Homo sapiens: one gene and its partners. The protein of the gene in region 1 purifies or fractionates together with the protein of each later gene. This does not show direct contact. Each region holds a gene or a part of one and is shown on either strand. Other genes may lie near its edges.

Evidence for each region. The genes of interacting proteins can lie anywhere in the genome.
Region 2: the proteins of STRA6 (region 1) and TMEM169 purify together in Homo sapiens (co-immunoprecipitation; one large-scale study listed by IntAct). This does not show direct contact.
Region 3: the proteins of STRA6 (region 1) and ATP1A3 purify together in Homo sapiens (co-immunoprecipitation; one large-scale study listed by IntAct). This does not show direct contact.
Region 4: the proteins of STRA6 (region 1) and SLC9A1 purify together in Homo sapiens (affinity purification with mass spectrometry; one large-scale study listed by BioGRID and IntAct). This does not show direct contact.

Annotation. Positions count from the first base shown.
Region 1 is NC_000015.10:74,192,788-74,196,287, forward strand, and holds part of STRA6 (receptor for retinol uptake STRA6), read right to left. Parts: intron 3,361-3,500; coding exon 3,221-3,360; intron 2,889-3,220; coding exon 2,865-2,888; coding exon of another isoform or gene 2,815-2,864; exon of another isoform or gene 2,682-2,814; coding exon 2,515-2,681; exon of another isoform or gene 1,600-2,514; intron 1,136-1,599; coding exon 1,013-1,135; intron 1-1,012. UniProt on the Homo sapiens protein: Functions as a retinol transporter. Accepts all-trans retinol from the extracellular retinol-binding protein RBP4, facilitates retinol transport across the cell membrane, and then transfers retinol to the cytoplasmic retinol-binding protein RBP1.
Region 2 is NC_000002.12:216,098,919-216,101,100, forward strand, and holds part of TMEM169 (transmembrane protein 169), read left to right. Parts: intron 1-1,001; coding exon 1,002-1,624; 3' UTR 1,625-2,182.
Region 3 is NC_000019.10:41,980,731-41,984,230, forward strand, and holds part of ATP1A3 (sodium/potassium-transporting ATPase subunit alpha-3), read right to left. Parts: intron 1,377-3,500; coding exon 1,178-1,376; intron 1,102-1,177; coding exon 992-1,101; intron 907-991; coding exon 772-906; intron 1-771. UniProt on the Homo sapiens protein: This is the catalytic component of the active enzyme, which catalyzes the hydrolysis of ATP coupled with the exchange of sodium and potassium ions across the plasma membrane.
Region 4 is NC_000001.11:27,148,626-27,152,125, reverse strand, and holds part of SLC9A1 (sodium/hydrogen exchanger 1), read left to right. Parts: intron 1-3,500. UniProt on the Homo sapiens protein: Electroneutral Na(+) /H(+) antiporter that extrudes Na(+) in exchange for external protons driven by the inward sodium ion chemical gradient, protecting cells from acidification that occurs from metabolism.

The sequences.
Region 1 (3,500 bases):
AGGGTCTCTGCAGAGCTTTCTTCCTCCTCCTCTCTCACCAGAAAGAAGTAGTGGACCCCGCCCCCTGCACCACAGTCCCAACACCCGGTGCAGGTTTCACATTGCACTGCAGGTGTTTTGTGCCGCATCTGTCTCCCCCACCACACTGGGAGCTCCTGGAGATCAGACACAAGTCCATCAGCTCCAAGTCCACAGCACTGAGCCCGGGGCCTGACATATGGTAGGTGCTTAGAAGGCTTTTTAGTGAGATTGAAGTATCTTCTAAGAATTCTCTTTTACCATGATGCATTCATCCATCCATCCTTCCTTCCATACATCTTTCCTTCGATCCATCCATCCATTCATCCATCTATTCAAAAATTCAAAAATATTTGCTGAGTATCTATTAAGGGCCAAGACCCACCCAGTGCTGCAAATATAATGAACAAAACAGACACAAAACTATCTCTTCCCCTTTACTCATGCTCTTTCCCGTGCCTACAATGCCTGCTCCTTATTCTCTCATCACTCTAGATCTCCCTGTCCTTCAGGCCCTTGTAGAGTCTACCTCCTCTAGGAAGCCCTCTCAGCCCTCCCCTTTATCTGAAATTATTCAACCACATCCAACCTAGAGTTGACTCATAATGGAGTTCTGCCCTGGGTGCTTCCTGAATCATCTCATTATGTGCAGAACTCGGATTAGGCACAAGGCTCCAGGCTGTCTCTCCAGCCAGATCTCAGTGTTTCACAGACAGAGATATGACTCTCCTGGCTTCTGACTCAGTTCTGCTTTGTTAAGTCCCTACTATTCACACAGCCCAGTGCCGCGGGTATCCTGGGTGCCAGTCAAGGGCCCAGTCCAGCTTTTGCCTAGGGAGGGAGGACTAAGCAGTCACTCAGCAAACATTTTCTGAGCATCTATTCTGTGCTGGGCCCTACATCAAGCACGGCCATGTATCTGGGACCACAGATACGGGGGAGTAGGGCTGTCTTGGGTGCTGAGGAAGAGCTCATCCCAGGCCTGCCCCTTTACCTTGGAGCCTGCTCCTGTCCTACGGCTGAAGCTTCTCACCAGCTGCACAGGGTACCAAAGGCTCAGGAATCCGAGGCCCAGCAGGAGAGGCAGGGAGGCCAGCAGGGAGTAGTACTTGTAGATCTGGACAGACAAACACCCAGACAGACTACTTTCCACCTTCTTCCCCCAGCCAAGAACCAGAATCCGTTGCCCTTCCCACCTCACACTGGGCCCTGAGGGTGGTCTGGGGGGCCATGGGAAGGCTTCAGCTCTATGGTTCCCAACCTGCCACCCAGCGCAAACCTGCCCACTTCCCCTTCTCGAGCCCTGCAGAGATGCTCACCCCTCCCCCAGGCTCCTGGATCCCCACGGGCCTGAGAGGAGCCAAGAGGAGGAGATCACTTGATTCCCTCCTGCCCCCCACTGGAAAGGACACCTCTTTCTGTTTCTGTGTTCCCGGAGCATTAGGAACAGTTCTGAAAATCACACGAAAGCCTGCCTTTGCCTACATATAGTTTTCAACCTGAGCATCAGGAAAGTCTATGCCCTACTCCTCAGGGCTGAGGCCTTCCTGGGGGTGGGCTTTTTGTATACTCATTCATTTATTTGTTGGTTCAATATACTTTTATTGAGAGCTTAGTATGTGCCAGGTTCTAGGTGGTGAAAAAAAGCCACCAAGTTCCCCCTCTCAAAGCAACCTCTTAGTCTTCACCTCCACCCTGAGGGACTGGTGTTATCAGCTCCATGGACGGATGGAGAAACGGTCTCAGAAAGGTGGCACTGTTTCCCCAAGGCACTTGGTACCACCTGGCATCATTTTGTTTGCGTGTCATGTCTGCCCTTCTGAAGTGACGGCTCTTGGGAGGCTAGGGACTGTTTGTCTTGTTCATAGCTGTAGTCCAGTGCCTGGAAATGTCCCTGGTACAAAGTATGTGCTTCAAATATGTTGTTGAATGAATGGGTGAGTGAATGAATGAAGTGGTGAAGCTGGATTCACACTCAGGTTGTCTGGCTCTAAAGCCTGTACCATCACTCTTTGAGTTCTAGACTGGACAGCTTCACAGCCCCAGCCAGCAGCCAGTGAGCAAGGTCCTGAGGTTCCGGAATTCTCCTCTCAGCCCTCTTAGACCATCCCTGACTTCGCACTTGCCGGCCTCCATCAAGCTTCACTCCCATTCCCTCTCCAGCCTGACCAAAGGGAAGCTGGGGGATCACTAACACAGGCATTGGGGGTGGGGGCCATTTCAGGCTTTCTCTTCCCCCTACTCTGCCCACTTCCCCTTCTCCGCCACCTCCTAGACTTAAAGTTCCTGAGGGCTGGGCCCAGCCACCTTGTTCCCTGCCTCTCCTGCAGAGCAGCCAAGCTTGGAAGGGGCACATGTTTGAAGGCATGGAATCCCATGCACAATGGAAGGCTGCAGGGCGGCCCATCATAGAATCAGAGCTCAAAGGAGGCACTGTGGTTTGAGTAGGTTGCTCTGTGCGCCCCTCTGCCCTAGGCCATTGTGATCAGCGGTTACCTTGGGCACCTGGGGACACTCTGCCCTCTGCCAGACCTGGACCCCAAGGTGGGCCCAGGACAGCGTGCTGCCGAGCAGGTGTGCAGCTGTGTGGCCAGCCGTGGCACAGGCAGCCAGAGGGTAGTAGAGGGCAGCATAATAGAACAGTCCCAGTATCTTCCAGGCCCCTGGAAGGTGAAACAAGCAGAGAGACCCATGCTGGAGGGGCAGACATGGGGCCTGCAGTGAGCCCACCCAGGCCTCTCTTCGGTCTCCAGCTTCCAAGCCCTTCAGCACGTTCAGTGGGCAAGAACACTAGGTTCAAATCCAGGCTCTGACTAGTCTCAACTCTGTGATCTTGGGCAAGTTACCTCTTGGAGCCTCAGTTTTCCCATCTGTAAAATGAAAATAATCACAGTATATTAGCAAGGGCAAAATGAGAAGGTGGATATATAATGCTTAGCATGGTGCCTGAGCAAATACTCAATTTAAGATACTACTTCCCTGGCTCTCAGTTCCTCCATTGCAAAATGGGGCTAATATGCATACTTTGTAGCATCGTTGTAAAGACTGGATGGTCTAAAAAGGTCACGTCTCAGGATAGCAGCCCATCTCATTGACAGCTGTTCCTGTTACTCTCATCTCCTTGAGCCAAGCTTAAAACTCCGAGACCCCACCCTACCCCATCCCATCACACCAACCCCAGGGCCTGGGGGTCAGTGGGTACCTTGGCTGGGTGCTGAGGCGAGAGTCAGGAAGGGCAATGCGTCCTCGTCGGGGAGCAGCAAACACAGGGAGCTCAGGAGGACCATGAAAACAGCAGCAGGCACTGCCCGGGGCCTGTCCCCAGCCAAGAAATCCACAGGGCTAGCACAGAGGCAAGGACAGGGCAGGAGGGAGTTGCTCAGCCCCTGCACCCCCATTACCTCCCAGCTGTATTCCATAAATCAAGGAGGTGGAGTCAGTCCCACTTTCTAGATGGGGGAATAAGGCCCCTTCATTCATTC
Region 2 (2,182 bases), on another chromosome or scaffold:
ATGGGTATGTGGTGTGTGTGTAGAATGTGTATATATGTGGTGTGTGCATACGGCATGTGGGTGGGTATGTGTAGTGTATATATGTGGAATGTGTGGGGGGCAGCATTTGTGTGCATGTATGCTGTGTGTATGTGTGGTGTGTGTGATGTGTATGTGTGTGTGTGGTGTGTTATGTGTGTATGTTGCATGTATGTGTGATATGTATGGGTATGTGGTGTGTATATGGTATGTGTATGTGTTGTATGTGGTATGTGTGGGGAGGTTGTGTGTGGCATGTGTGTGGTGTATGTGTTATGTATGGTGTTTGGTATATGTGGTGTGGGTATGTGGTGTGTATGTGGTATGTGTGATGTGCATGGTGTGTGGTGTGTGGTGTGTGTATGGGATAGTGTAGTGTGTGTATGTGGTACGTGATTGGGAGGTGGCATGTGTATGTGTGTGTATGGTGTGTATGTAGTATGTGAGAGGGTGTATGTGTATGGTATATGTGGGATGCATGTGTGTATGCGTGCAGCCCCTGGATGTGAGGGCTGGATCAGGCATGTGAGGGGCCCCCTCTCAGAAAGCACAGAACTAGGCATGAGAAGGGAAGGTGGTGGCCGTCCATCAGTCCAGTATCTTCACAGCACTTGTTACCTAGAAATAGGATCATCATTTGCATCATGTCTGTATCAAAGTTCGTCACACTCCTCCGTGCCACAGAGATTGTGCCAAGATTGAGGCCCCAAAAAGCGGAGAGAGTAGGTGAAAAGCTTAACCTGCCTCACAATTTTATCAGGGCCCAGGCACAAGGACTGAGAGTTCATGTGGGAGCAATAACACCAGTGGTCACTCTCCCGAGGGAGACCCACTCAGTCCGCCATTGAATCACTGACTCAGGACTGTGCCAGATGGTGTAAAAAAGGCTACTCTTGTCCTCATGCCCAGCCTGGGAGGGTGCAACATGGAGATGCAATGCCCACTCTTCTGATCTTGACTCTCACCTCCTTTGTACCCTGCAGATATGTGGAACCTGCCTCTGGACAGCCGCTACGTCACCTTAACTGGGACCATCACACGAGGGAAGAAAAAGGGTCAGATGGTGGACATCCATGTCACATTGACAGAGAAAGAGCTGCAGGAACTGACCAAACCTAAAGAGTCATCAAGGGAAACGACGCCTGAAGGAAGAATGGCCTGCCAGATGGGAGCTGACCGTGGGCCCCATGTGGTCCTCTGGACGCTGATCTGCCTGCCTGTGGTTTTCATCCTTTCTTTTGTTGTCTCTTTCTACTACGGCACTATCACCTGGTACAACATCTTCCTCGTGTATAATGAGGAAAGGACCTTCTGGCACAAGATCTCGTATTGCCCTTGCCTCGTTCTCTTCTATCCAGTGCTCATCATGGCCATGGCTTCTTCCCTCGGCCTCTACGCTGCTGTGGTCCAGCTCTCGTGGTCCTGGGAAGCATGGTGGCAAGCTGCCCGGGACATGGAGAAAGGCTTCTGTGGCTGGCTCTGCAGCAAGCTGGGTCTGGAGGACTGTTCTCCCTACAGCATTGTGGAGTTGCTTGAATCCGACAATATCTCAAGCACTCTCTCCAACAAGGACCCCATCCAAGAAGTAGAAACCTCCACGGTCTAAACTCCCAACAACTTACTCCCTCCTCTGGCCCCAGTAGCCTATATATCATCTTAAAATTCCAGCAGATTATTTCTTTAAATTACCCCCTACTCTCCGCAGTTCTTCTGGGAAATCAGAGTCCATACTGATCAGTTTTACCATCTTGAGGGTTCCAGGAGGGCATGGAGCAGACAAGCAATTGTGCCAAAGCAGTTCACCCAATGGACAAACTCTTTTTGATTCCCTGCCCTAAAATCACCATTTATTTAGGACAATGGAACTCTGCTGTGTGTCGTTTTGGGAGCCTGGAAGTGTTACTGGTGCCTGGAACTGAGGGGAGTATGTGACTAAATGTGTCAGGGAGAATAAAGAACCTCGGGGTAACCAAATCCACCAAGATAATAGACAGGGATGGAGTGAGACATTTAGGAAGCTGGACTACCACAGTGTAGCAGAAGGTAAAGATTTGTGTGTATCATTTAGATTTAGATTTAGCTGCATAGAATTAAAACCCTAAAATATCAGTGGCTTAAACAAGATAGAAGTGTATTTCTTTCTTGTGCAGAAGAAGTCTGGAGG
Region 3 (3,500 bases), on another chromosome or scaffold:
GAAACCCCGTCTCTACTAAAAATACAAAAAATTAGCTGGGCATGGTGGCGGGCGCCTGTAGTCCCAGCTATTCTGGAGGCTGAGGCAGGAGAATGGTGTGAACCCGGGAGGTGGAGCTTGCAGTGAGCTGAGATCGCGCCACTGCACTCCAGCCTGGGTGACAGAGCGAAACTCTGTCTCAAAAAAAAAAAAAGTTTGCTGAATAATTTAAAGTTGCTGCTCTGCCCCAAGAGGTCTCCTGCTTGTTCCCACTCTCTGCTGTAGGAAAACTTTTTTTTTTTTTTTGAGTCAGGGTCTTGCTCTGTCACCCAGGCTGGAGTACAGTGCGTGATGTAGGCTCTCTGCAGCCCCAACCTCCCCGGCTCAGGCAATCCTCCTGCCTCAGACTCCCAAATCGCTGAGACCACAGGCACATACCACCACACCTGGCTAATTAAAAAAAAAATTTCGTACAGATGGGGTTTTGCCATCTTGCCCAGGCTCGTCTCGAACTCCTGGCCTCAAGTGATCCCCCCACCTCAGCCTCCCAAAGTTCTGGTGTTAAAGGTGTGAGCCACCGCGCCTGGCCTGCAGGAAGATCTTTACTCCTCAGCGTCTCACTCCAACAGAGATCCGGCTCCCACTCTCAAGCTCTCCCTGTTCCTCTCCCCACCAGGCGGGTATTATCATTCCCATTTTACAGACGGGAAAATCAAGGCTCTATGACACCTCTTTACAGGCGTCATAAGGAACCTGAGGTCCAGGCTGGCTCTCCCGGAAAGCCCAGAGTACCTGGTATTTGTTGGTGGAATTGAAGGGAATCTCAGCCACTTTCTTGTTGCGTTCACGCATCAGCTTCACGGAGCCAGAGGACAGCTCGATGCACTTGAGCAGGGCAGACTCAGACGCATCCCCAGCCACATCCCTCTGCAAGGAGAAAGGGTTGTCAGAACAGGGACAGCTGAGGGGAGGACACAGGCAGGGCCGAGGTGAGGCCAGTAGCTGAACCCACCTTGAGCACAGGGATGTTGTCCTGACCACCCTTGAAGACAGCGCGATTGCAGAGCCCAGCGATGTGAGACAGGGCCACCCAGGTGTGCGAACTCTTGTCAAATGAGGTCCCTGGGGGAGGCATGTGTGAGGGCCAGGGACTCCTGGAGCCAGGCCCCCATGGTCCTCACCCGGGGCCTGCGCTCACCTGACTGGTCCTCAGTGGTGTCAGCCTCGTGGATCTGGTTGTCAAACCACATGTGGGCGACTGTCATGCGGTTCTGAGTGAGGGTCCCTGTCTTATCTGAGCAGATGGTGGACGTGGAGCCCAGGGTTTCTACAGCCTCCAGGTTCTTCACCAGGCAGTTCTTCCGGGCCATGCGCTTGGCGGTCAGCGTCAGACACACCTGGAGGACGAGCAAGGGCAGGCAAGTTACAGGGACAAGCCCGGCAGCAGGGTTGGATGAGCGACACGAGGGCCACAGCCCAGCTGCCCAGCCCCCAGAGAATCCTGAGGGCCTGGAAAAGAATGAGGCAGCACCCAGCAATGCCACCCCCAATTCAGACCAATAGAAACAGGGCAGAGACACCCAAAGACAGGGACTAGAATGCTCATAGCAGCCACATGCATAATAGTGCAAAACAGCCAGGTGCAGTGGCTCACGCCTGTAATCCCAGCACTTTGGGAGGCCGAGGTAGGCGCATCACTTGAGATCAGGAGTTCGAGACCAGCCTGGCTAACATGGTGAAACCCCATCCCTACTAAAAATACAGAAATTAGCAGGGCATGATGGTACACTCCTGTCATCCCAGCTACTTGGGAAGCTGAGGCACGAGAACCCCTTGAACCCAGGAGGTGGAGGTTGCAGTGATCCGAAATCGTGACACTGCACTCCAGCCTGGGCAACAGAGTGAGACTCCAACTCAAAAAAAAAAAAAATTGTCCAAAACTGCAAACTACTCAAATGTCCACTAACAGCAGAAAAGATAAATTGTGGACAATGGAATACTAACATTGATAAAAACAAATACATTACTGCTGCCTGCACCTGCATGGGTGAACGTCAAAAACATGTTCAGCCAAAAAGAGCCAGAAATGAGTTCATACTGAATTATTCCGTTAATAGGAAGTTTGAACACAGGCAAAGTTAATCTATGCTGTTAGCAGCCAGATCAGGGGTTACCCTTGGGTTGGGGGGCAGGGGCTAAATAAGGTCTTGAGGGGGCTTCAGGGAGACGCAGTCTCGTTGCAGCTGACGTGATTCTGTTCAGTTTGCCCCAAATCATCAGACTATGTGCTCACAATATGCTTAATCCTTTGCGTATAAAAATCCATTTGACATAGGGTAGCATTCAACATTGCTAATATGGAAAACAGTAAACTTTTTTTTTTTTTGAGACACAGTCTTGCTCTGTCGTCCAGGCTGGAGTGCAGTGGCTCGATCTCAGCTCACTGCAACCTCCACCTCCCAGGTTCAAGCAATTCTTGTGCCTCAGCCTCCCAAGTAGCTGGGATTACAGGCGCCCACCATCACGCCTGGCTAATTTTTGTATTTTTAGTAGAGATGGGGTTTTGCCATGTTGGCCAGGCTGGTCTTGAACTCCTGACCTCAAGTGATCCACCCACCTCGGATTCCCAAAGTGCTGGGATTACAGGCGTGAGCCACCCTGCCCGGCCCTAATATGGAAAACTTCACATAAAACATTAAGTCAAAGAATGAAAGAGGAGAATGGTATTTCTAAGATAGTCCCTGCCATGCACCTTGAAGACAGCATTTAGTCAATATGCTCACAGCTGTCAGGCGGAACCTCACAGAGAATGGACTTCTGGGGTGAAGCTGGCAGCAAAGCAGCCAGAGAAAAAATTTTTAAAAATAATAATAATAATTATTATTATTATAATAATTATTATTATTATTATTTTCTTGAGATGGAGTCTCCCTCTGTCACACAGGCTAGAGTGCAGTGGTTCAATCATGGCCCACTACAGCCTCAACCTCCCGGGTCAGCCTCCCAAATAGCTGGAACTACAGACATGTACCACCACGCCTGGCTAATTTAAAAAAATTTTTTTTTTTTTTTTTTTTTTTTTGAGACAGAATCTCGCTTTTGTCGCCCAGGCTGGAGTGAGGTGGCACGATCTCGGCTCACTGCAAGCTCTGCCTCCTAGGCTCAAGCTATTCTCCTGTCTCAGCCTCCTGAGTAGCTGGGATTCCAGGCACCCATCACCACGCCTGGCTAATTTTTATACTTTTAGTAGAGATGGGGTTTTGCCATGTTGGCCAGTCTGGTCTCGAACTCCTGACCTCAGGTGATCCACCCGCCTCGGCCTCCCAAAGTCTTGGGACTACAGGCATGAGCCACTGCGCCCAGCCTTCACATTTTTTGGTAGAGATGGGTTCTTACTATGTTGTCCAGGCTTGTCTCAAACTCCTGACCTCAAGCAGTCCTCCTGCCTCAGCCTCCCAAACTGTTGGGATTAAAGGCGTGAGCCACTGCGCCAGGCTTATTATTTTATTTTATTTATTTAT
Region 4 (3,500 bases), on another chromosome or scaffold:
CATGGCAACAATATCAGTCTAGAAGTCAGGAAAACCTGGCTTCTCTTCCTACCTCCCTCTGTCCTTGGACCAGTCACGCCTCCCTACCCATCAGTTGATCTTTGTGGTCCCTTCCAGGTGTGATATTTCTGTCATTCCACTGACTCTGGAAACTCTGGCAAGTCACTCAGCCTTGGACCTCAGTTTTCCCATTGTAAAATGATGAGGCTGGATGTGGTCTCCTTTCCAAAAGTCTGTTTCTGCCTTGGAAAGGCATTTTTCTGCCTCTGAAAACAGGAGTTCTAGCATCTGGCCATGAGTGGAGAGAAAGGTGGTCTAAAGATCTGAAGAGTCCCTGTTCAGGCCTCAAAAATGAAAGCCCATTTTTCCCAGCTTCACCTTTGCAGTGTGGAATTCAGCCACCACTCTGCCACTTAGCAGCATCTCTGAGCCTCAGTTTCCTCATGTATAAAAGGGGAACTAAGCTGGGCGCAGTGGCTCACGCCTGTAATCCCAGCACTTTGGGAGGCTGAGGCAGGGTGGATCGCCTGAAGTCAGGAGTTTTGATACCAGCCTGGCCAACATGGTGAAACCCCGTCTCTACTAAAAATACAAAAAATTAGCTGGGCATGGTGGCGGCTGCCTGTAATCCCAGCTACTCTGGAGGCCAAGGCAGGAGGATCGCTTGAACCCAGGAGGCGGAGGTTGCAGTGAGCCAAGATTGCGCCATTGCACTCCAGCCTGGGCAACAAGAGTGAAATTCCGTCTCTAAATAAATAAATAAAAAAAAATAAAATGGGAACTAATAGTATCCAGTTATAGTGCTATTAATGTGATTATTACATAAATAAATGCACATAAAAGTTTGTATACACAGGAAGTGTTCAATGAGTGACAGCTGCCCCTGTTAATATTTTAACCACCTACAGCAAATGCATCCCTACCTCAGCCTCCTACAACCTTCCTCTGAGCTGAAGGATTACAAATCTCTCAAACCTAGGCTGCCACCAATGTCCTTCCTTAGGGTATCAGGGTTTCCATGTGTCCTATACTGTTCACTTGAGCTGGTCATGGCGGGAGGGAAGATGACACCAGCTGCCTTGTAGGGATAAGGGTGGGGGGCTGAGGCCATGCTCCCTCTGCACTCTCAGATACCCAAGAGCCTGGGAGCTGATTTTGGGGTCTTGCCTATTCTCTCAACACCCCTGCGTGGGTAGGAGTTCCGTTGGAGCCCTCATTCTGTCATCTATGGCAGCTGCTTCCCTTGCAGGTTACCCCTCCTATAAGAATAGAAAGTGCTTTGCAGTTCTCCTTCCTACCCTAACCATGGAGCAGAGCCTCGGGTAGACTCTTGCAGAGACTGGGGTGGGAGGAGCAGGGTGGGAGCTGAAGTTCTAGAATAGTTGCTTCTGGGTTCTAGTCTACCTCTGACTCAGTGGGTGACATTAGGTAAGTCACCTTCCCTCTCTGGACCTTTTTTCTCTCCCCAGCAGTCAGGAATTCTTGCTTGTCCTTGGTGGGGAGGGGCCAGTGGTGTGAAGAGGATTTAGGCTATTGGGAAAACTGTGGGAATGACTCCAAGCCTTAGGAGTTAGGTGCATTCCCCACCCCACATTGTGCTGTGGACCCCGCATGAACTCTGCTTTGTTCCATGTTCACCTGACTCCCAGGCTAGTACTTATTCCAGAGGAGAGCCTCACTGTAACTCAGCTCACCACTGGCATCTCCTGCAATTGTTTACCCATGTTCCTGACCCAGAATGCCTGGCAGAGGCCCGGGAGCCCATAAAGCAGGTATTCATCTTGTCTCCTGACCAGGGACACAAAAGGCTTCTTTTGTCCCTTTATATCTTATAGCTTTTTTTGGTTTTGGTCTTTGCAAGGCGAATCCTGCCATCTCCTCTGTAGATTAAGTCTGTGAATAGGGGAGATGGGGTCACTGCCCACTTCACATGCATGGATATCAGACCCAGCAACTGGTTTCCTATAAAAATGACACTAGAAGGTGCCTCTCTCACTTCTCAAAAGAAGAGAAGAACAAATAGCCTAAAGGTCACCTTGAAACTGTCTCAAGAAGCCCAGATAGGACTCTAAAAAGGAAGCGATGACCTTTTTCTCTTTGGGAAAATAGCAGACTGACTGCAGAACAGTGGGAGGGAGGTCAGCTGGGGACTGGGAGGAAGGCTTCAGGTAGGACATGTGTCTCTAGGAGTGCCAAGGCACTTAGAGGGCTTAGTTGGTCAGATTGCCCAGACTTCATTCAGCTGAGCACCCTCGAAGTTTGCCTTTCCTCTCCTTCCAAGCCAGCCCCATGGCGTCCAGCCCTGGTACAAAGGAAAGACGTAGTCAGAAGCCCTGGGTTCTGCTCCTGATGCTGCCTCTCAGTACCTGTGTGACCATGAACCTTGAGGTTCATGCACCTCATTCTCTGAACCTGACTTGCCTCATCCTTAAGACCAACGTAGAGGCTGAACGTGGGAATGCCTGGTAGAGTGCCCAGCTCACTGTAGTAACTTTCAGGGCCGTGCAGATTCTTCCCCTTTTGGGAGGTCTTCCCAGCCCACAGCAGTCACTTTCTCTTTCTCTCCCAAACCCTTTTCCCTTATTGTTTATCCATAACAGTGGCATTAGGCCTTGCCTGCCCTGTGACATCTCCTGTGTTGAACGGGTGTGTGTGTTTTAATAATAGTTGCCACTTAGTATCTACAGAGTAGTGTCAGGCACTTTATAAAAGCAATCTTATTTAATCCCTACTCAAATCACATGAGATAAAAGCTGTCTCTGTTTTGCAGATGAGGAAATGGCTCAGAGAGGTTATCTTCAGTGATGTCAAATTGCTATTTATTGTCTGTTCGAGTCTTGGCATAGCCTGCTAGAGGGGTGCAGCTGCATCTCCTGCCTCTGGCATTCCCGCAGCAGATGCACATGGCCCTGCACTGAGAAGCGCCCAGCTCACTGCACCTGCACTCAGGAATTGTAGGACTCCCTCTAGGAGTTGGGCACATGTCGTTGGTGGGAGCCCTGTCCCTGCCTTGAGAAAGCTGTAGGTGTTCTGTGTCCAGCTGTGCACCTGTCCTTTGTTTTTGTGAGTCTTCTTGGATGCACCTGAATCCTGCATTCAGGAGGCCTATCCCTTGTTCTCTGCTAGCAACCCTGCCTGCTATCTCTCTTCCGGTGCCCTCTCAGCCATCAGACCAGAGCTTGCTTCTTCCCTGCTTGGGCAGGGAAGTGCCAGGTAAAGGGTGGTCTCCTTTAGCCACAAGGGGTGGCTGACCTTATGACCTCCCGCCTCTGAGCAGAAAGGTGACAGGCTGCTTTTGGTTACCCTCAGGGCCCAGCAGAGTCCCCTGAGAGGCAGCCTCTGTTGGGAGCAGGTGGCACAACTTTGTTTAGCTCTACAAGGCAGGAGGAGTTTAATAGTACTTCTCATTAGCACTGAAATTTGTTTCCAAAGCACTTGTGTGTACAATATTTAATTTAGATCTTCTCAGTGGTCCTGTGGGTTAGAATAGCATGTGGTAT